Linked DNA regions of Homo sapiens. The protein of the gene in region 3 interacts with the protein of the main gene of each other region in a pairwise test. Each region holds a gene or a part of one and is shown on either strand. Other genes may lie near its edges.

Region 1 (7,768 bases), 5.2 Mb from region 3:
GGCCAAAGCTGGTGGCTGTACCTCAAGCATGAGAAGGGAAGAAGGGGCTTCTGTGGCAGAGTCTAGCCTGGCCCATGAGGATTCTCCAGCCTCACTGGGCAGGCCCCGCCCCCGGGCAGGGAAGTAGGGGGTGCCAAATGCAGCAGGACTGGAAGTGGGACTCTCAGGAATGTGGTGCTCACACAGTCTGAATTGGTGGAAAGACCACAGGAAAATCAAAGTGCAGATGACTCCAAGCAGAAGCCTGTCATCCCCAATCCCACAGTTCACGTCCCCTGAGTGACAGGCTCAGTCTTGCAGAACTGAGGAGAGCCTGGGACATTTCCAGATGTCCTTGATTCTCACTGGATGGAGTGTGGATCCTGCTGCCTTCCCCAACAGGGACCATGACAGGGGTGGGAGTTGGCATGAACAGGGGGATTTGAGGGTCAGTTGAGGACTTAGAGCTCAAGAATGTATCTCATGAAGAACATGACCTCAGAAGGCAGAAGGCCAAGAATGGGGAAGCCTCTGGAAAGAGCAATGCCAGATGGCAGAGCAGAGGCAGCCTGTCGGGCCCAGGAGCCACCAGGGCCAGACTGAGGACTCCACAGGCTGTGGGAAGGGGCACTGGTGCTGGACTAGTCAATGAGTCTCACTCCGGGTGCTCTGCTGGAGCTGGGCAGGGGGCCCCCTTTGCCCTGCCCCCACTTGCTGTCTCACCTGGCACCTGTTCCCTTTCGGTAGTTGAGGTTGACTCTTATCTGAGGGGCGAATTTCCGGTCCTCGCCCTGGAACTGTGACTCCATGGGAGGCAGCCCGCTCCCAAAATCCAGCTTTCCTCTGTCCGCCTCAGAGCCATCTTCTTGGCCTCCATCTAATGTCTCCAACCTGAAAACTGGAGAGCTGGAGGGTGAGGTCATCCTAGGAGGAGGAGGCTGCTCGGTCCAGCCAGGACCTCTGTGCAGATGGAGATGTCAAGGGTCCTGTCTTCCTCCCAGCTGCGCGTCGGTGTTGGCCTGACTGGAGCCTGCAAAAGGAGGTATTAGGTTAGTGCAAAAGGCTGGGCGTGGTGGCTGGGTGTAATCCCAGCACTTTGGGAGGCTGAGGCTGGCTGGTCAGCTGTTAGAGACCAGCCTGACCAACATGGTGAAACCCCATCTCCACTAAAAAAAATACAAAAATTAGCTGGGCATGGTGGCTTGTGCCTGTAATCCCAGCTACTAGGGAGGGTGAGGCAGGAGAATTGCTTAAACCCGGAAGCTAAGATGGCACCACTGCACTCCAGCCTGGGCAACAGAGCAAGACTCTGTCTCAAAAAAAAAAAAAAAAAAAATTGCGGTTTTTGCCATTACTTCTCATTACTTCTAATGGCAAAAATGCCAAGTGCAAGTAGGTCCACCCACTGTGTGGGAGCCCAGCCCCAATGCAGGGGAAGTGGGCCAGGAGGGATGAGCAGCAGGGGTGAGGAGAGGGAGGGAGGCCTGTGGGGTGAGGAACAGGGAACCAATAGGGCCACCCTTTTGATGTTGTCCCCCAGGAAGAGCCATGACTGTCCCCGACTTTTCCTCTGGGACTTCCTGGAATCTGAGGGGTCACAACCCCTGTTACCATTTACATTAACAGCACAACCCTTTCTTTACACAACGTCTTGCCTGGCAGCCAATATTCCAACAGATAAAAGTGCGATGACTGGGATGGGGCCAGTCACTCAACCCCTCGCCAAAGAAGGGGAGCTCTAAGAAGAAATAACTGGGAAAACCACTAGACTATCAAACCCTTCATTTTGCTGCCAAGACTACTAAGGCTTAGAAAGGGGGAGTGGCTTTCCCAAGGTCGCCAGTTGTTGGCAGAGCCGGATCTGACACCATGCGTCTACCATGACGTTCCTCTTCCGTTTTCAAAGCCTTTCAGGGTCTGTCTATATTTTCAGTCTGATTCAGCTCTGAAGGCATCGAATACTACCTTTGTGTGCCTCAGGGCCTCTGGGGGCTTCACGAAGGGAGGGAGGCCCCTAGCCTGTGGCCCAGGCTCTCTCCACCACGCTGCCTCAGGCCCTAGGCTGGCCTAGGAAGCTCAGCAAACAGCACAATCTCACCCTCACAGGAAAACTGAAACCACAGCCTCCATCACTTGGCAAGGGTGGGGCCTCGGTCAGGGTTGGGGAACCCTCATGGGCCCAGTGAGCAGGATCAGAAAGAAGAAGGAGTCAAAGAGTGGTAAGGAGACAGAAGGGTGGAGAAGGGGGCAGGGGGCAGGGGGCAGAGAGCAGAGAGGAGCGGCACCAGCAGAGGGAAGTGGAGAGGGTAGGCTGGGACCAGGCCCTGGGGACCCGGGTGGGGTATTTTCCCATGGAAACATGGGAGGTGGGGAGCTGCCTGGCTGCCTCAGTTTGCAGATGTGACCCACCACCCTTTCTACACACACTGGGGCAGAAGGGTGCTCTTTCCGTTTCATACCGTTTAGCCCATCTGTGTCCCCAACCAAACCCTGGCCCATTCCTCCAGCCCTAGACTCCCAAGCCCCAGCAGCAACAGTTGTCTGTCCAGCCCCCACCCCACCTCCTGGGACCCTCACCCACCCTGGCAGCAGAGGAAGGGGTGTGGAGGTCCAGGGAGAGGGTGCTGGAGCCCCACACAGACCCTGGCTCCAGGCTGTAGAAGCCAGGAGCCCACTAGGCCTTCCCCACCCCATCATTCACTGTCAGGCTTGGAGACCCGGCCCCCTCCAACGTCCCCAGCATTGCCCACCGACTTACCCCGCAGGCTGAGGCCAGGGCGTGGCGGCTGCTGGGATCCCGGAGCTTCTCAGTAGCAGGGGCTGCGGGAGGAAGTGAAGCCGGGAGGGGCTGCCGGCGCTGACAGCAGAGGAGCGGCGGAACCTCCCTCCCCAGCTCTGAGCACTAAGCTCCAGCAAGCAGGTTCTGGTCTCTCGGTCACCCTCAGCCCACCTGGCCAGCCGGCACGGTGGAGAACGGGAGCTTAACTCTCCCCTGTCAGGACAGGCTAGCCACCAGAGACTGACCATCTGGACACACCCTGCTGCGAATCAGGCTCCACCCCCACCCCTCCCCCTTCTAGCCACTAAGGTCTCAGGTGGGGGTGGGTGACACTCAGAGGCAGCCCTTGGATGCTGGGGACTTGCCACCCATGGAAGCTGCCATGGATGGGGGATTCTTCCCCAAGTCCACTGACAGCTATCTCCTCCCCTTCTCCACCACATGCCTTCCAAGCAGCCGTGTGGCCCATAAATGGGCCTGAGTTGACCCATGGCAGGGGAGAAAGCTGATGTGGACAGCCCCCAGGGAGAGGCTCAGCCCAGCAGATGCCCCTGGGAACACAGTCCCACCCACCCATCCACCCAGCAGTTGGGGGACTTTCCCACCTCCCAGGACCTTCTCCCAGCCTCCTGACCCCAGGACTCTGATGGCTAAAGTTCCCCTAAAGGTGCTCCAAGCACCAGCCAGCAGGTGGAGACAAGGAGGTGGGCACGCACTGCTAAAATCAGACCTCACCACCAACGGGGCCCTGGTCTGGACTCAGTCTTGGAGCTTGGGGACCCAACCACCACCGAAGTAGCCCTAGGAATCTCTCTCCCTCACTCCCAAAACCTGGCATCAGCTCTTCCTCCAAAATTTGTCTTTCTGAGTGGTCCAAGCCACTATCACTGCTCCCCTGGGCAACTGCAGCCACCTCCAAACTGGTCTCCCTGCTTCATTCTTGCCCCACACTCATAATCCATTTCTCCTTATAGCAACTGAAGTGACCTTTTAAAAATGGGAACCAGGGCCGGGCGCAGTGGCTCACACCTGTAATCCCAGCACTTTGGGAGGCCGAGGTGCATGGATCACTTGAGGTCAGGAGTTCAAGACCAGCCTGGCTAACATGGCAAAACCCCATCTCTACTAAAAATACAAATATTAGCTGGATATGGTGGTGGGCACCTGTAATCTCAGCTACTTGGGAGGCTGACGCAGGAGAATCGCTTGAACCTGGGAGGCGGAAGTTGCAGTGAGCTGAGATTGTGCCACTGCACACCAGCCTGGACAACAGAGCGAGACTCTGTGTCAAAAAAGAAAAAAAAAGAAAACCAGGTCACCTAACGCCTTGACTTAATCACAAAACCTCACCCATGGTGCTTGGAATAAAATGCAAACTCCATACCATGAGCCCTCAAAGTCCAGATGCCCTTCTCCATCGCTATCCGTCACTCATGGCAACCCTGTCATGCACATTACACTCTAGGCCTGCGCCATCCAATAAGATAGTCACTAGCCACAATGACTGTTTAGATTTAAATCAATTATAATAGGCCTCACGCTTGTAATCCCAGCACTTTGGGAAGCTGAGGTGGGTGGATCACCTGAGGTCAGGAGTTCCAGACCTGCCTGACCAACATAGTGAAACCCCATCTCTACTAAAAATACAAAATTAGTCCAGGCGCGGTGGCTCATACCTGTAATCCCAGCACTTTGGGAAGCCAAGGTAGGTGGATCACTTGAGGTGAGGAATTCGAGACCAGCCTGGCCAATATGGCAAAACCCCATTTCTCCTAAAAATAAAAAAAAATAGCCAGGCGTAGTGGCACGTGCCTGTAATCCCAGCTACTTGGGAGGCTGAGGCAGGAGAATCGCTTAAACCTGGGAGGCAGAGCTTGCAGTGAGCCAAGATTGTGCCATTGCACTCCAGCCTGGACAACAAGAGGGAAACTCTGTCTCAAAAATAAATACATAATAAAATAACAGTAAACATTCAGTTCTGCTGTCCCATTAGCCACATTTTAAATGCTCAGTTGGCACATGTGGCTAGTGGCTACCATATCGGATAGCACACAGATGACAAATTTTTCTTTTTTTCTTTCTTTTTTTTTTTTTTTTCTGAGACGGAGTTTCATTCTTGTTGCCCAGGCTGGAGTGTAATGGCACGATCTCAGCTCGCCGCAACCTCCGCCTCCTAGGTTCAAGTGATTCTCCTGCCTCAGCCTCCTGAGTAGCTGTGATTACAGGCATGCACCACCATGTCTGGCTAATTTTGTATTTTTAGTAGAGACGGGGTTTCTCTATGTTGGTCAGGCTGGTCTCAAACTCCCGACCTCAGGAGCTCCGCCCACCTCAGCCTCCCAAAGTGCTGGGATTACAGGCGTGAGCCACCGTGCCAGCCTGAGACATTTTTCATAAACATAGAGTTCTATTAGACAGCACTGCTCTAGACATTCTGAACACATTTCAGTCTCCCCAGTATGCCATGCCTCTTCTGTTCCACCTGCCAGGAACACACACACACACACACACACACACACACACTGCTCTTGATCTGATCTAGCCAACTCCTGCTCATCCATCATCTCTCAATTTAAGCATCACTTCCTTTAGATAGCCTTTCCTAGACCCTGGACTGGGCTGGGGATCGCCACTATGTGCTCCCATGACACTCTGTACTTCCCCCACATCTCATTATCCGTTACTGTAATATTTATTATATTGTCTGGCTTCACTTTTTTTTTTTTTTTGAGACGGAGTCTCATTCTGTTGCCCAGGCTGGAGCGCAGTGGCATGATCTTGGCTCACTGCAACCTCCACCTCCCAGATTCAAGTGATTCTCCTGCCTCAGCCTCCCCAGTAGCTAGGATTACAGGCACGCGCCACGACACCCGGCTAACTTTTGTATTTTTAGTAGAGACAGGGTTTCACCATGTTGGCCAGGCTGGTCTCGAACTCCTGACCTCAAGTGATCCGGCCACCTCCGCCTCCCAAAGTGCTGAGATTACAGGCATGAGCCACTGTCCCCGCCTTCACCTTTAACAATAAAAAATACTTACGGAGCACTCACTATGCACCAGACACTGTGCTAAGCGCTCAACATGTAACTCCCAGAGCAACCTTATTTCACAGACAAGAAAACTGAGCATGGGTAAGGCCAAGGCCACAAGGCTGGGAGGTGAGAAAGCAAGGATTCAAGTCCAGGGCCACAGGCTTACCACCATACTTTCCAAGGGGTGAGATCTTGCTTTGTTGCTGTATCCCCAGCAACCAGCACAGTGCCTGGCATCCAAGTGGTGCTCAAGAAGGCTTTGAATGACAGGATGGCTTATAATCATAGTGCAGAGGGCACTGCTGTGCTGTTGAGAAAAAAGTGAAAAGTGGACAACCTGAAGTCCTCCAGAGCCATCACCACATCCGGTGAAAATGACAATTGGGTAGACAGATAACCTTAATTGCAAATTCTGGTTACAAAAAGGCCTTGGATTGTAGCCATCAGGGAAAGGCAAATCAAAAGCACAATGTGGTCCCACTTCACACTACTAACATAGCTATTATAAAAAGACATGTAACAACAAAGTGTTGGCAAGGGTGTGGAGAAATTGGACCTGTCCTACACTCCTGGGAGATTGTAAAATGGTGCAACTACTTTGGAAAACAGTCCGGCTGCTCCTCAAAAGATTAAACATAGAGAGCTGGGCGCGGTGGTTCACTCCTGTAATCCCAGCATGTTGGGAGGCCGAGGTGAGTGGATCATCTGAGGTCAGGCATTTGAGACCAGCCTGGCCAACATGGCGAAAACCCTCCTCTATCAAAAATGAAAAAATTAGGCCGGGTGCGGTGGCTCAGGCCTGTAATCCCAGCACTTTGGGCAGCCGAGGCAGGCGCATCACCTGAGGTCAGGAGTTCGAGAGCAGCCTGGCCAACATGGCAAAACCTTGTTTCTACTAAAAATGCAAAAATTAGCCAGGCATGGTGGTGGACGCCTGTAATCCCAGTTACTCCAGAGGCTGAGGAAGGAGAATCACTTGAACCCGGGAGGCAGAGGTTGCAGTGAGCTGAGATCGCCCCATTGCACTCCAGCCTGGGCGACAGAGCAAGAGTCTGTCTCAAAAAAAAAAAAAAAAAAAAAAATTAGCAGGGCATGGTGGCACATGCCTATAATCCCAGCTACTGGGGAGGCTGAGGCAGGAGAATTGCTTGAACCTGGATGGTGGAGGTTGCAGTGAGCTGAGATCCTGCCATTGCACTGCAGCCTGGACAACAGAGCAAGGCTGTCTCAAAAAAAAAAAAAAAAAAAAGGGCCAGGCGCGGTGGCTCACACCTGTAATCCCAACATTTTGGGAGGCCAAGGCGGGTGGATCACGAGGTCAGGAGATCGAGACCATCCTGGCTAACATGGTGAAACCCTGTTTCTACTAAAAATACAAAAAAAAATTAGCCGGGCGTGGTGGCGGGCGCCTGTAGTCCCAGCTACTTGGGAGGCTGAGGCGGGAGAATAGCATAAACCTGGGAGGCGGAGCTTGCAGTGAGCCGAGATAGTGCCACCGCTGCACTCCAGCCTGGGCAACAGAGTGAGACTCTGTCTCAAAAAAAAAAAAATAAAATAAACATAGTTACCATACGACCCAGCAATTCCACTCCTAGGTATGTACTCAAAGAAATGGAAACATATGTCCATACACACTTGTACATGAATGTTTACAGCAGCATTATTCATAATAACCAAATAGAAACACCCCAAATGATGATTAACTGATGACGAATGGATACATAAAATGTGGCATATCCATTTAATGGAATATTATTTGGCCACAAAAAGAGAAATTAAGTACTGATGTACACTATAGCATGGAAGAAACTTGAAAAATTAGGTTAAATGAAAGAAGTCAGTCACAAAAATCACACACTGCATGATTCCATTTATTTATTTTTATTTTTATTACATCCTCAGATAAGGGACACGTCAAACTGATAAGAACAGATACTACACTTGATTTTAGCTGAAAGGTCAAGAAGTAATCTGCGTGA
Region 2 (7,988 bases), on a different chromosome or scaffold from region 3:
GTGGGAACCAGCACGCCTGGTCAGAGCCAGTTCAGGCCCCTAAACCAGAGCGGGATTAACGCGGAGACAATATTGTCACAGCCAGGTCTTGGGAAGCTGGGCTTTGCCTGGGTGAGGCAGTGGGACACAGGATTGGAGCCTGAGAGTGGACACCATGTGGCTCTAGCTGTGGCCTGGTCGATTCCCACTTGGCTTTTTTTCCTTTTTTCTTTTTTGGCGGAGTCTTGCTCTGTTGTCTAGGCTGGAGTGTAGTGGCACGATCTTGGCTCACTGCAACCTCTGCCTCCAGGGTTCAAGCAATTCTCTTGCCTCAGCCTCCCGAGTAGCTGGGATTACAGGCGCCCGCCACCACGCAGAGCTATTTTTTTTTTTTTTTTGAGACAGAGTTTTGCTCTTGTCACCCAGGCTGGAGTGCAGTGGTGCGATCTCAGCTCACTGCAACCTCTGCCTCCCAGGTTCAAGCAATTCTCCTGCCTTAGCCTGCTGAGTACCCGGGATTACAGGCACCTGCCACCACGCCCGGCTAATTTTTGTATTTTTAGTAGAGACAGGGTTTTGCCATGTTGGCCAGGCTGGTCTCAAATTCCTGAACTCAAATGATCCGCCCGCCTCGGCCTCCCAAAGTGCTGTGATTATAGGTGTGAGCCACTGCACCCAGCCTCATGACTGACTATTTATTTAGAACAAGGAAAAAAAGCGCAACAAATAACTGCAGAAATACAATTTTAACTGGTTTAAGAAAAAGTAAGGACCGGGCACGGTGGCTCATGCCTGTAATCCCAGCACTTTGGGAGGCCAAGGCAGGCAGATCACGAGGTCAGGAGATCAAGACCATCCTGGCTAACACAGTGAAACCCCGTCTCTACTAAAAAAAAAATACAAAAAATTAGCCGGGCATGGTGGCGTGCGCCTGTAGTCCCAGCTGCTGGGGAGGCTGAGGCAGGAGAATGGCGTGAACCTGGGAGGCAGAGGTTGCAGTGAGCCGAGATCGTGCCACTGTACTCCAGCCTGGGTGACAGAGCAAAACTCTGTCTCAAAAAACAAAAAAAAAAAAAAAAAAAAAAAAGAAAGAAAGAAAGAAAAGAAAAAAGAAAAAGTAAGGGAGCCCATAGTTGTACTCCAGTCTGGGCGACAGAGCAAGACTGTCTCAAAAGAATAAAAAATAAAAAGTAAGGGAAAAAAATGCATTGACTCTGGAGGTCTGGTAGTAGGATTGCAGGTATGGCTGGATCCAGCAGCTGATGAAATCAGTTATCTTTCTTTCCTATCTCTTTGCTCTGCTGTCCTCTGTGGTGGTCCAAGTGGGGGGCAAAAGTGGTGTCAAGCTTGTATTCTGCCAGCCAACAAGCCCAGAGAGCTGATCTTAGAACTAACAGCCACTATGATTGGCTGGACATGGGTCATGTATACACCAGGCACTGAGAGTGGAAGAGAGGTTCCCCAAACAGAAACTGAGTGCTGTTATCAGAATCAGGGAAAGTAGTGCTGGCTATCAGGAGCCATGGATGTTCCTTGGATTCTCTTGCAGGACAAAGTCACGTCCTTCCCTTCCCTTCAGAACTTTGTCCCTCTTACTAAAACTTCTATCCTTCATGTGGTAGGGAGAGCAAAGGAACTCATCTCTGAACACCTACTGAGCATCAGGTATTTTTACCCACATTTACCCCACCAGATTCTTGCTATGAAGCCACAAGGGACAAACCTGGGTTGGCAACCCCTCGGTTGCAAGAGGAAACTGAGGCCCAGAGAGAAGTGATTTGCCCAAGGCTGGCAAGTGGCAGAGCTGGAATCACTCCCAGATACTGATGTTACTCACAGCTGTATCTGTGTCCCCATCTGACCCGGCCACCATGGGGGAGCTCCCTTTTCTCTATGCTGCTCCTCTCCCCGCCCTGCCTAGCACAGGGCCCCACACACAGCAGCGCCCAGGAAATAAGCATTGGACTGACCTGACTCCAAGCAGGTAGGGTGGAAGATGGAGGATGGAGGAAGGAGCTGGGAGGCCCAAGGGGCTTCTGAGGCTGTCTGCCAAGCTGACCTCTGACCTTTAAAGCCCATGTTTTCCCTTCTGCCCCCTTTCCCTGGGAATATTCGTCCCTATTCTCACACTGGCTCCTCCCCATCTCAGCTTAACCCTCACCTCCTCAGAGAGGATTTCCCCCCACACCCCACACCCCACACCCACCCCACCCCCTTTTGTCTCAGACCCCTTGTCCATTCCTTCATAGCACCTTTTACTATTGGTTATTGTTATGTTAATTTGCTTTATGGTTTGCTCTACCCAATCTCCCTGTAAGGACTGTGGGGACAAGGACTGATCATGTCTGATTTGATCCCGTCGGCTCCTTGACTCATGCATTGCACACAGTAGGTGCCCGGTCAGTGTCTGCTCAGTCAAAGCTCTCCACTGTGGAGGTGCCACCCCCGCCCCGGCAAGCAGACTTGCCCTCAAACCTCTCTTCCACCCCTTCCCTGCCACTCAGGGTCTCAGCTGCCACCATCCTAATAGAAGATTGAGCCCCTTGCCTGCTGGAGCCATCTAAGGGAGAAGAAAGCCGTTGTGAGCCTGGCAGGGAGGGCGGAGGGCAGCAGAGCCTCTGAGCTGGCAGACAAAGGGCGTGTGTTCTCATCCAGCGCACTTCCTGGGTTTCCGTTGCAGGAAGTTTGGCACCTGCCGATCGGTGACATCGACACCCGAGCTGCTGCGGGCCAGGACGAATCCCTCCATCCGGGAGCAGTGGTGGCGGTGGAACAGGTGGCCTGGGGTGCTGGAGGCAGGTAAGCAGAGGCAGTTGAACCCCTCATTCCCCTTGGACTGTCCCAGAGCAAATGTGGGAAGCCTGGGTCCTAGACTAAGTCAGTGTGACCTTGAACAAGGCCCCAAATCAACTCTTCGTTGCCTCACTATCCCACCTGGGGGTGCAACAGGTGGTTCAGGGGCTGTCATGGAGGTGAGGGCAGGCAGCTCCACTTTTATCTCTTAAATAAACTTCTGGGTCACTAAGCATTTGCAAAGGGGTTCTACAGCCAAAAGCGCCTGAAAACCCCCAGATCGCACCTTCCTCCTTTGAGTCCTTCCCGTCTCTGTCGTTCAGAGGGTATGGGGAAGTCTCCTCCAAAGGGTGCTGCAAAGCTGGAGTTTTGGGGGGCAGGGGCAGGATATCACTGCCAAGCCAGGAATGAGCCGAGCAGGGACTCAGACAGCCTTGAGTCCCAGCCTCGCCCTGCTGCACAGAACTCTCAGCACCTCCAAGCCCCAGCTTCCGATTCTGTAAAGGATGGCACTGGTACCTGTTCTTGAGACTAGCAGAGCTGTGTGCCCAGGGACACAGCGGCTCTGGTTTGAATTTGGCTCTGCCATTTGCCCCTAGTGTGGCCTTGAGCCTCTCGGGGCCTCAGTGTCCTTGACCGTGAACAGGAATCATCAGCCCTGGTGCTCATGGCTCTTGTGGGATTAGGATGGGGATGAGGATGGGTACCAGCACCTAGAAAGCCCCTATCAATGGCAGCTCCTGGGACTGCTGCTGTTACTGCAGCTTGGCTGAGAGGATCAAATGGGAAAAGGGGCGACAAGAGGGATGGGAGGGGCGATGATCAGTGGGTGAGGGCGGAGGCAGCCTCCTCTGACCCTCATAAACCAGCCTCCCTCAGAAACAGCCCCAGAGCCACCCTGGAGGGGTGACTGTAGCTGAGGGGTTGCAGGACGGGCCAGATCCTGTCTGGCCACCCCGCAGATGGCGCTGGGTCCAGCGCTCCTCAAGCCTCAGCCACTGTGGCTTTAATCAAAAGAACAATCTGTCTGCCTCTGAATCAGACCCAGATTCCTTTCCCCACAATGTCCCTGAGGCCTCCAGGGACCCAGGCAGTCCATCCCGGCCCCATCCCGGGCCCCAGAGTCCAGGCTCTGCCTCCCCTCCCGCTCCCGTCCTAATTGCTCCAGCTGGGAGGGGGAGGGTCACTGGATGTGGAGGGAGGGGTTCAGCCACAGGGCCAGCCGGGCCCTGCCTTCCAGAGCTCCTGGAGCGGCCTGTCCCCCGGGACACCGGGACCCACCTGCAGAGGGCTTACCGCTCAGGAGAGCAGAACAAGGTGACCTGCTCCACTGGGGGTCTCCGAGACCCCCACCCTCAGGAACACTCCCGGAAAAAGCCCCCAACCCAGCATATATTAACCACTATTAATCACAGTCCTGGCTGTAACTGTCACCTTTTATCCTCAGGCCAACCTGGAGAGGTAGGCAGTGGCTACCTCCACTTTACAGATGAAGACACTGAGGCTCAGGAGGTGGCGTGACTGCTCCGGGTCTCACGCTTAGTAAACGGCCGCAGAACCCTGGTCGGTTTGACGCAAGACCCTGGCGGATCCCAGAGCCAAAGTAAGCGCTCACCTCCGCCGGACAGGGTAGGTGGGGTTGCCAACCCAGGAGAGCGAGGGAAGGGGGACGGCAGGGACCACTCGGGGTCCATGAAGAACGCGAGGGGATGGGCAGCGGGGAGGGAAGGAAACCCACCCCGACTCCCCATTCTCCTACCCCCACTCCCCATCCCTCCCATTCCCCCATCGCCCCCATCCCCATTCCCCCCCATTCCCACCCCCTGGCCTGTGCCAAGGGGGAGGGGAGGCGTCGTCCAGGGAACAAAGGGAGGGGGAAGGGGCGGCGCGGGGCGCGGCCGGGCAGGTTGGGGGGCAGGTAGGGGCCGCTTCCGCGGGGCGGGAATCCCGCGCCCCCTCCCCCCGAGCCTCACCTTTTATGGTAAAGCGGCGCGGGGCGGCGGGGCGGAGGGAGCCGAGGGGGCGGGGAGGGCGGACGGGCGGAGGGGACGGGAGGCCCAGCGGCTCCGGGCTCCGCTGGCTCGGGCGTCGGATCGGAGCCGCCGGGGCGCGGGCGGCCCAGGTAAGCGGGCCGGGTGGGTGGGGGTCGCGTCCCTCCGTCCCTGTCCCCGGTGCACACAGGTGACAGCGCCGGCAGTGCTCGGCCGGAGCCTGCTCGGTCGCCAGCCGGGACCCCCGGCGCGGCGCCCCTGGAGGGGCCTGCGGGTGGGGGGTGCGGTCCTCACGCCCTTTGCGTCCCAGTCTCTTGGTCTCTCTCCCCGGAGTCGGGGAGTCGGCAGGTCCGGGGCGAGGGCTCAGTGAGGCCGGCGGAGGGCCGAGTCCCAGCCCGGGAGCGGGAGCCGGGGACCCGGCGCGCAGGGCGGAAGCTCCCGCACAAAAGGCCGGAGTCCCGCACATGGATCGAATTAAAGCTCCGGCGGCGCCCAGCGGTGACCCCGGCGGCCGCCCTGCTCGGCTGCCTGCGGAGGGTCCCGCGTTTCCGGAGCCCGGGGGCGCTCCAGGCCCCTTTTCCTAGCCAGGGTCAGGCAAGGGGAGGGACGGGTCCCGGGGCTGCTCCTCTCTGGGCCTCACGCGCCCGTCGGGGGCTGAGAAGGTGTGGAGATGGGCGATACCCAGGTGTGTGCCCTGGGATGATCTTGGCGTCGGCCCCTACCCCTCACCTCCCACCCAAGCCTGAGGACCCCGGGGAGAGGCTGGGGCCGCGCCCAGATTCCTGCTCTTAATGACGCTGTAGGTTCTGTCCGGGTCCTGGAGGCACCCCCAGCCGAGCCCAGCCCCCGGGCTGCTTCTCCCTCTCAGCTGCTGCCTAACCAGCTGTCCTTCTCTTTGCACCTTCCAAGGGCCTAGACCCTGAGTCTTCTTTCCTTATATATCCTCTCAGCCGCCCTAGGGACACACTCATTCTCACTTTATGAAAAAACGAGGCCAGAGAGTTTCTGTGACCTATTCGGGGTCACCCCGCAGGAAAGAAGTGGGGCCGCGTGTGAACCCAGCTCTCTACCTCCTCTGTTTCCCTGGGGTGGGAAAGAGGTTGAGGGAACCCCTCCCCTAAGTTGCAGGGTGGGAGGGGTTGGGGCACACCCCGCCACTTCTGCCTAAATTTAATTCCGTACCCAAAGGTAGACTGCTTTATCCGGTCATTAAAGAACAAAGCTGGCCGGGAGCGGTGGCTCACGCCTGTAATCCCAGCACTTTGGGAGGCCGAGGCGGGCGGATTACCTGAAGTCAGGAGTTGGAGACCAGCCTGGCCAACGTGGTGAAACCCCGTCTCTACTAAAAATACAAAAATTAGCCGGGTGTGGTGGCGCGCGCCTGTAATCCCAGCTATTCGGCGGCTGAGGCACGAGAATCGCTTGAACCCAGGAGGCGGAGGTTGCAGTGAGCCGAGATCGCACCACTGCGCAGCCTGGGCCACAGAATGAGACTCTGTCTCAAAATAAATAAATAAATAACAAAGCTTAAGCCGGGTGTAGTGGCTCAAGCCTGTAATCCCAGCACTCTGGGAGGCCGAGGAGGGCGGATCACTTGAGGTCAGGAGTTTGAGACCAGCCTGGTCAACATGGTGAAACCCTGTCTCTACCAAAAATACAAAAATTAGCCAGGGGTGGTGGCGTGTGCCTGTGGTCCCAGCTACTCAGGAGGCTGAGGCAGGACAATCGCTTGAACCTGGGAGGTGGAGGTTTCAGTGAGCTGAGATTGCGCCACTGCACTCCAGCCTCGGCCACAGAGCAAGATTCTGTCTCAGAAAAAAAAAAAAAAAAAAAAAGAACAGAGCTTAGAGGTGGCCCCAGAGGTTTTTTTGTTTTTTTTTTTCTTTGTAGGGAACAAGGAGTAGGAAGGAGGACTGTGGGGGTGACCCCCCCTGAGCTGCACATTCTCTGCCCCAAGGCTGCAGCCTCTAGCTGGTCTGGGTGGCTGGCTGGATCCCTGCCTCCTTCCTTCCTTTGGACAGGAAATGACTTTCCTTCCCTTTGTTCCCACTTTTCTCCACTTATCTAACTGGATCTGTGATTCGCTCTCTGGGGGAGGAAGAGTGGGGGCGGAGGGTCCCCTGGGCACAGCTGACTGGGAGATGGCCCCAGGGAACTTACACACAGCCTGCTCCCAGCTGAATCGGTGGCAGTGGGACGGGAGGGAAGCCGGGGCTCCCTCTCCCGATGGGATTGACAGGGCTTTGAAACTCCCCAGCTTAGACCCCCTGGGGCCTGAGGTCCCTGCAGTCACTGCTTGGGAGGTATAGGGGCTGCCCAGCTGTGAACATCTGGCCTCAGTGCTGGACATTTTCCGAGAAGCCAGGCAGATCCGACTTCCCGGAGGAGTGTAGGAAGGGTCAGGGCTGGGTGGGAGGAGGCAGAGGGCCATCCCGAAGCCCCACAGCAGCCCCTGGGGACCAGCCCGGAACATGCCGACCACAAGATTTCTGGTCTGGATTGGGCCATTGTAGAGTGAGAACAGGCCTGGGAACTTGGGCGACTTTGTGCCACCCAAGGAAGGAAAAGCGTGTCTGGGGACACACTTTTGGATGATGTTCCATTAGAATTCCGAGTGCCATGGATGGCCTGGGAAAGTCACTTAACCTCTTGGAACCTCACAGGGTCCATCTGCAAAGTGGGGGCAGGATGGGCATTTCTTGCAGCTAGATTGAGAGGCTGGTGGGTTTTGAGGCACATATAGTACCTGGCACAGGGCCTGGCACGAAACAAGTGCCTTATCAGCAAGTCGTTTGGTATTTCTTTAAATCTCACATGTACTCTGAACATTGTTGACAAAAATAGATTCTTAAACTTATAACAAAGTGTAAAACTAAAGCCCGTGACAGCCAGCCTAAGCATACGTACTTCCAGACATCATTTCCAAACCCAGAAGCAAAAGACAAGTACTTTAAAATAAGTTTTGAAGCTCTTTCCTAATATATTGGTTTCTTCCTCAGAATAGATATTTTATTGTCAGACTGAGCTATGTATTTTAGCCAAACAACTTAAGGGAATTTAGGAGCACGTGTTATTGTTTTTATTATCATCCATCAGTCGCTGTGAACCCAAAGTGGCCAGTGCACTTTGAGATAAGGAGGGAAGCCTGAAGAGCGAGATAGAAAAGGGGACATTTTTAGCCCTGGGCACAGGCATTGGGTGCCTGCTGAGGACTGATGTGCTCAC
Region 3 (7,659 bases):
CAAGTTCACCACCTGATTTTATTCAGTTCACAGCCTCTCTTCCAGCAGCTGCAGTCTTGCCTGATCAGTGCTTTGGAAACCATCATATCCGTGCCTGTTGGGTAGGGGACAATGCCTGTCTGTGTGTGGTAGGGGGACAGGGCATGGGGGATCCATCTACGACACTCCATGAATGACCTTGGGCAGGTCAGGGAAACTTATTTTTCAGTTCTGGGTAACTGAAGCACAATGTCCCAACTCAGCTTCTTGCTTCCGGGGCACGTCAGGGTGAGTGTGCAAGTTGATCTCAGACTCCTGGGGGTGAGTGTGACTACACCACTCTTCTCACTTTGCTCACACCTCAGAGACCACCGTTTGCCATTCTGGGGAGTATTTTTGTGTAGACTGTCTTGTTGGGCAATCAAGGTAGGGAAAAGGAGGGAGTGATAGAGACAGAGAAATATTCACACCGTAATGAGTTTTCCTTAGGGAAAGTGGGGAGGAGAAAGAATGTACACTCTCGAGAGGTCAAGAGAGGAAGCGGATGTGCATGCAGTTACATATTCCTTGAAATAGCTCAGCAAAGATGTTTCCTTTCTGAACAAGAAAGACAAACCGGTTTCAGTGTGTGCTTCCCCCTGAAGATGATAGGTGGGCAGACAGGGGCTGAGTCTGAGGGAGTTTCAGTGAGAACAGCCTCATTGGAGAGGGACATTTATGGGAGTGTGAGCAGGGGTGAAGGGAACGGATGGGCCATCTGCATCTGCCTTAGTGCTCCCAGGCTGGACAGCCCTCCGCCTGCCCATGCACACACATTCCTTAGGGTAGGACTTCCTTTCATCTCTCTACTCCTTCAGGGAGGAAGATATTTCATCATTTCCAGAAGTGATTAGACCTTGCTATCGTGTTTCTGAGTGAGAAATCAGTGTCTGTGGGGGAAACCGTCAGCTCTCTTGTGATTCTAATAGATGAGTACCAAGTCCGACTCAGCTAGCTGGACTCCGTGGAGGAGGAAGAGATGGGCACAGGATTGAAAGGCAGAGCTGGGTGCTGGATGTGGCCAGAGAGCCCCAGGGCAGCCGTGCCTGCCTTTCCCAACCGGAAGCCCAATTCCTACCAGGATCTCCACTTCACTTTTCCCTTCTTCCAAACTGCCCGGGCTAAGGCTCAAGCTGCAGCCATCCACAGATTTTGCTATTTCCTGACTGACTTCCGCACAGCTCCCCTGAGGGGCTTTTTGTTCTGGGAGGGCCGCCAAGGGCATGGGCTGCACCCAGGAAACCGCCTGGGAGCCTGGGTCCTTTTTGACATTCATTTTTGTGCTAGCTGTCTCACATCCAAACCTGTTCCTTCCTCCTCACCCTGAGTTGATTCATTAGTGTCTTGGAGATGAGAATCATTCTGAGGGAGGAACTGTGTGGCTTTTTTTAATGGCTAATTAACAGATGGGTCAGGAAGCTATTAGGATGCTGGAGACGCAGTTGGTGAAATCAGAGCTGCCCTGGGTCCTTCCACTGCCTGCACAGGAGCAGAGGGGATCAAAGAATGTGGGCAGGGTGGGGGGGGTGGATATCTAGGTGGGTGGGAAGAAAAATCCAGGTGGATATCAACAGGAAAAAGTATTAGGAGGTGACCCCTTCATCTTGGGTTGGTTCTCTTGCTTATTTCTAGAAGAAGTCAAGGGAATACTTTGTTCTACTCTTTCTCCCTCCAGAAATTAATTAGAAACTCAAAGAGCTCTGTTATTTCCTCACAGGCCACATAACTGCAGTGGCAGGGCCCCTTCGCTGGCTGATTTAGTGAGTTCTCTTCCTAGGCTCCTGGGCAACAAATTGTCAAGTCACTGCGTTTTTTGAAGCACTGTGAGCTCACTATAATGAATTGATCTAAATAGAGAGTCGACTTATTTTTCTACTTCAAATATAGAAGGAAAGAAACAAAAAAGCATCTTGCCTTGGACTGAAAGTTTTAGCCTTGCCTTTATTTCTTTTTTCTTTGAGTTAAAAAAAAAATGCTTCGCCGGGTGCGGTGGCTCACGCCTGTAATCCCAGCACTTTGGGAGGCCAGAGTGGGTGGATCATTAGGTCAGGAGATTGAGACCATCCTGGCTAACACGGTGAAATCCCGTCTCTACGAAAAACACAAAAAGTTAGCCGGGTGTGGTGGCATGCGCCTGTAGTCCCAGCTACTCGGGAGGCTGAGGCAGGAGAATCCCTTGAACCTGGGAAGCAGAGGTTGTAGTGAGCCAAGATCGCACCACTGCACTCCAACCTGGGGGCCAGAGCGAGACTCAGTCTCAAAAAATAAAAAGAAAAAATAAATGCTTGTAGGGAAAGAGGAAAATTGTGGAAGAACTGGAGAAGTCTTATGGAGGAAGGGCTAGGGGAAGGATGCTGGGAAGGCAGAAAGAAGCAAAAATAGCGAAAGGAGGAAAGCAATCCAGTGAGAGGTTGATTATTCCCACTGAAGGGACAAAGTGACGTTGCCCTGCCTTCATGTGCCACAGGCTTGGTTTGTCCTGACTCTTGCAGACACACGCAGACATTCACTTAACAAATGAGCCCTGCTCACCTTCCCTGGGCAAGATGTGTTTCATACTACACCATATAAGCTTATAAGACACATGTTGCCTTTGATATATGAGGTTAGCAGGGTTCCTTCTTGCTTTAGCAGGGCAACCATGCAAATACTTTTCAAATTCCCTACACTGTGCAATTCTCCTTGGTCACATTGCTCACTGTCTTCATGTCCCTTCCTGCCCCTCCCCAAGCTCAGAAGGCCTTCACACCCATCCCTTTCTCCCCTCTTACCCTACCCGAGGTGGGGAGCACATTCATTTCTGGGAATCGACTGCTAAGGTACCAAGTTTACCCACTGTTCTAGGCTGCCAAGACACAGCTAGAGAAAAAAGCCTAATTCATTGTATTCAACTGGTTTTAATGAGAGATCGGATTGACCGTGCAGTGGATTCAAATCAATTGTGCAGGAAACAGTGGTTAAGACAGCTGAGAAAGTGATCTGATTGAAAGAGGCTAATTCACTAGCTCCAGACGGACAGTCCTACGGATCCGGAATAAAAGGGAACCACAACAAAAGAAGCTTCATGCTTCCAGTTCCATCGCCTGATTTTCCAGGGGCTGGCAGATTGTATTTAGGTCTTCCCTTTCTAGTTCAATTTCTATAGTCTGCAAGAATTCCTACCACATGCTGGAACTGCCACCGTGCTCCTGGCTATGGGAGGTCACCACCCTCCTTCCCTGCTGCCCTCTCCCCATTCAAACACCTGTACCATCCATTTTTGAAATTATGGTGAATTTTGTCTTACAATTTTGCTCATAGCCCTTGATGATATATCACCTCTGGAACCACAAAATGATGGTTTCAATTTACAAGCATGTAAGATGTCTCAGATTGGTTGGTGGTGGTGGGAGGGGTTGTGCTTGGGTGGAATATATGAGGATTTAGACTAAGTACGTTTTGTAGTTTCTGTTGTGATTTTTCCCCTCTTTTCTTTACCTTGGGAAACTCCACCCCATTATTTCTTCCTGAGTTACGTTTATGACCTCACCTCTTTGGCGTCTTTCTTTTTTTTTTTTTTTTTGAGATGGAGTCTTGCTTGGTGGCCCAAGCTGGAGTGCAGTGGCACAATGTCTGCTCACTGCAACTTCCGCCTCCCTGGTTTGAGCTATTCTCCTGCCTCAGCCTCCCAAGTAGCTAGGACTACAGGCGCCCGCCACCACACCTGGCTAATTTTTTGTATTTTTAGTAGAGACAGCGTTTCACCATGTTAGCCAGAATGGTCTCGATCTCCTGACCTCATGCTCTGCCCACCTCTGCCTCCCAAAGTGCTGGGATTACAGGTGTGAGACACGGAGCCTGGCCTCTAGTGTCTTTCTTTGCAGATATTGTAGAGAGATAAGAGGCCTGGGTACAAGGGTTACCAGTGAATCCTCAGAGGGTCTCAGTCCCTTGAACTCAACCCTTGAGCAAGCTTAATTTTAAAACAATTCAGGATACATTGCTAACTCTATTTTTTTTAATCTCTCGAAGTGAAACCAGAACTTCTGAAAAAGCAGGGTAGTACATTCTATTCTTTTGTCATCTATTACAGAATTATAACGTTTTCATTGCAGGCAATTCATTTAATCTCGTTACCTAGTTTTACAAGTGAGGCAACTGAAATTCAGAGAGGCTAGGTCACAGTGCCAAGGAGCCCAGCTAGTGGGTGGGTGAGCTTGGAGGTTAAGCCAGGGCGCCTGTGTTCTAGCGCTCAGACTCATCTCATTCAATGAAAATATATTCTGCTTCTTTACTCTTTGCACGTTCCTTGGTTAGTCATCACCAAATAACTTTGGGATCCTTAGAGATGTGAGTTACAGCCTTCTCCTTTCTCTTTCTTTCCTACGTTTCTGTACCCCTCCTGGTTCACTGTTTCCACTGAATGTCTCCACTAAAATGATTTCTGTCGATCTTCCCCGCTCCTTTTGCAGTTTTTTCACGTTCCTTTCTTAAGGGCAATAACCTAATCTAAGCATAATCCTTTTATAAGGTCTGAGTAATGCGGACTATTGAAGAAGGAAAATAACAGCACAACCAAAGAGTTGTGGACTGGGGCAAAAAGTCACCGAATGAAACTGTGGGCAGAAATCTGTCATTAAAAATTCAGGGCCAGGCACAGTGGCTCACGCCTGTAATCCCAGCACTTTGGGAGGCCGAGGCGGGCAGATCACGAGGTCAGGAGATCGAGACCATCCCGGCTAACACGGTGAAACCTCGTCTCTACTAAAAATACAAAAAATTAGCCGGGCTTGGTGGCGGCGCCTGTAGTCCCAGCTACTTGGGAGACTGAGGCAGGAGAATGGCGTGAACCTGGGAGGTGGAGCTTGCAGTGAGCCGAGATCGCGCCACTGCACTCCAGCCTGGGCAACAGAGCGAGACTCCGTCTCAAAAAAAAAAAAAAAAAAAAAATTCAGACTGTGAATGCTTTCTCTCTCTCTCCCAGAGATGAGTGGAAATGCTGAATGCTGAGACCTACCGGATCAATGCAGTTCAGCTCTGTGAGAGGCCAGAGACCTCCCGCCATCCAGTGGCCGTGTGTGTGTGTGTGCGCGTGCGTGTGTGTGGACGTGTGTGTGCGTGTGTATATGTGTGTGTGATTTCAGGGTTATCTTCTGGGTTGGCCCCCTGCATAGAATATAGCTCTGCAAGCCACGGAAGCTCATTCATAGACGCCAGTTTTGCCCTTTCTCAGCTCTGGGCCCAGATACTGCAGGCTAATCAAGCTGGAAATCTGGGCTTAATCATTATGTGAAAATAACCTCTGTGGCATGCAGTTTGGGGGTTTTCCCTGTAATGTGCTTGATACTTCCTTTGAAAGAACCTGGTTGTACATACCTTAATGTGTCACCCTTCCAAGCAGTCACCTTGGGAGGCCGCATGCTGATTTTTCTGCAGAAAATGTTTCCACGGTCCCTCTCTTGAAAGTACATTGAGAGCCCATGGCATGTCATTTTGACTTTATATAAGGGTAACATATTTTAATTTTCCTAGGGTTGATTTGATTCTTGTAAGCAATGGTAAGTCATGGGGCTGAGTCTGATGAATGAGATAGGTGATCAGAAATCAAGAGTGCCTCCAGTAATGAGACTTGCTCTCCTAGGAGCCGTGTCAGCTGTCTCTGAAGGCAGGAGCCCAGAAGAGGCATTTCAGAAAGGAGTGAATGGCAGCTCTGCACAGGAGTGCCTGGCAATCCACGATGATCATTTTGAAGAGGACACTCCTCATGAGGAACGACAATTATTGGCCTTAAGAAAATCAGTTTTATGCTTTATCCGTGTGTCAGGCAGGTGGTGGAGGTCCTAAGAGAGAGGGAGAAAAAGGAGTTGAGTCTGCAGCAAGCATTTCACATGGAACTGCTCAGAAAGGGTGAAAAAGTGCACGTCCCATATTTCTGCATGAGATAGTAGACAGTTAGCTTAATTTAGCTTCCTAGTTTGATACTGAGGGTAAAAGGACCCAGTTTTACGGGATGTATGCAGTGAGGCTCGGGGTCAGAGCCAGAGTGTTCACTGTGCCTTCCCTTCTTTCTATCCCAGGGCTGTCGCCTCTGTACTTCTGCATTCAGACGGGGTCACCAGCTGGGCCAGACTGCCTTAGATGATGTAGAAATATTTGCAAGCCCAGGAAGATAAGGCTGCCAGTGAGCACTGCTGATCAATTCCTAATGTGCATTTATCACCACTCGCTCCACCCCCAAATGTCCATTCAGTGGATGAATTGATCACCGAAATGGAGCGAGGGTGGGGCAGGCTGAGTGTAAAGGCAGGTGACAAGGGTTACCAGACTCAGTGTCTGCAGGCAGGGAAGCCATGGCTGTGCTACCTGGGTAGAATGGCATTCCTTCATCTCAGTCAGGATTTAGGGGTTGGTAAAGGGCTGGGCATTTGTACTGCCCCCATGCATAGGCCGGGGCAGAGCCTCTGGTCCTGATGACCCTCTAAAGGCCATTGTTGGGCATTCTGGAGGAGTCAGTCTTGCTGTGAGCCTGGGGAGTCCCTCTTAACTCTGCTCACGTGTCAGGACAGTGGGAGCTCTGTGTCCCAGGAGCTTACACAACCCCATCACTCATGCAAGCCCACAAGCCAGAGTTGGAGAGAACTGGAGATCTCGGTGAGATGAAGACTCAAGGAAGTGGAGAGGATGGTAGAGAGATACTCATAAGAGTGCCGGGTCTCGAGGGCTTACTCTGTACCAGCATCCAGCTTGCACCTAACCTGCATTATCTCGCTGCATCCTCCCATCATCCCGTCTGAGTGTAGGGGCCCATGTTGTAGATGAGGAAACCGATTCAGAGAGGCTTAGTAACTTGCCCAAGGTCACACAGCTAGTACATTGCTGGTGCCCTTCTCTCTCTCAAGTCCAGTAGAACAGTTGGGTCTCACCTTCCTGAATGTAATGGAGTCAGTGATACTCAGATTACTTAAGAAAGCAAAGACCTACCTTCCCATGCCCTGGGACTGGTTATCATAGTGAAAGACTGGGAAGATAAGTGACCTACCTATGAGGGCTCTGTGGAACCAGAACGGCGGCCCCCATTTAGATTGCATGCAGGCAGCAAGATCCTCAGGGCAGTGAAAGAGCTCTCTTTCAGGAATATATGATATTGGCTGAGGATAGCAAAGGCAATGCAAAGAAAATATTAAACAAAACAAAACACCCTGATTTTAATTGAGAAAAAAAAAAAACTTGACAATATTGAAAGAACCCCTGGGCAATTCTGCATGAGTCAGTGGAGAGCAGTGACGGGAGCTTGGGTGAGGGGCACAGGAGAGAAAAGAGGCGATTTGGGAGGCGGTATGGACCTAGGGATATTTCTAGTTTTAATTACTGAGATGTAGAGCTCACAAACAGCTCCATTTATCACAACTCTCCCACCCTGCCCCATGTCTAACATCTAGCATCGTGCATGCAAGACACAGCACTTTAGCCAGCTTGCTTCTGCTGTTCCCTGTTCTGGTTTTATTCCTTCCCTGTTTGTACCCTGGTGGCTGTGCTTCGTAATGACTCACGCTTTCCCTGTGATTCTCTGTTTCCGGTTCTCTCAAGTCCCCTGTCCTGAGGGGCACGTGGAAAGGAAGGAATCCTGGGACACTCTTAATAGCCTGTGTTTTACTCTCCAGC

The links.
Region 1: the proteins of SHISA6 (region 3) and TRPV2 interact in a protein complementation assay, tested with the Homo sapiens proteins (one study listed by IntAct).
Region 2: the proteins of SHISA6 (region 3) and FBLIM1 interact in binary tests that used the Homo sapiens proteins (3 or more experiments, as listed by UniProt).

Annotation. Positions count from the first base shown.
Region 1 is NC_000017.11:16,410,803-16,418,570, reverse strand, and holds the start of TRPV2 (transient receptor potential cation channel subfamily V member 2), read right to left. Parts: upstream 3,001-7,768; 5' UTR 2,738-3,000; intron 1,010-2,737; 5' UTR 903-1,009; coding exon 703-902; intron 1-702. UniProt on the Homo sapiens protein: Calcium-permeable, non-selective cation channel with an outward rectification. Seems to be regulated, at least in part, by IGF1, PDGF and neuropeptide head activator. May transduce physical stimuli in mast cells.
Region 2 is NC_000001.11:15,753,955-15,761,942, forward strand, and holds the start of FBLIM1 (filamin-binding LIM protein 1), read left to right. Parts: upstream 1-4,840; 5' UTR 4,841-4,894; intron 4,895-7,988. UniProt on the Homo sapiens protein: Serves as an anchoring site for cell-ECM adhesion proteins and filamin-containing actin filaments. Is implicated in cell shape modulation (spreading) and motility.
Region 3 is NC_000017.11:11,244,213-11,251,871, forward strand, and holds part of SHISA6 (protein shisa-6 isoform 1 precursor), read left to right. Parts: intron 1-7,659. UniProt on the Homo sapiens protein: Involved in maintenance of high-frequency synaptic transmission at hippocampal CA3-CA1 synapses.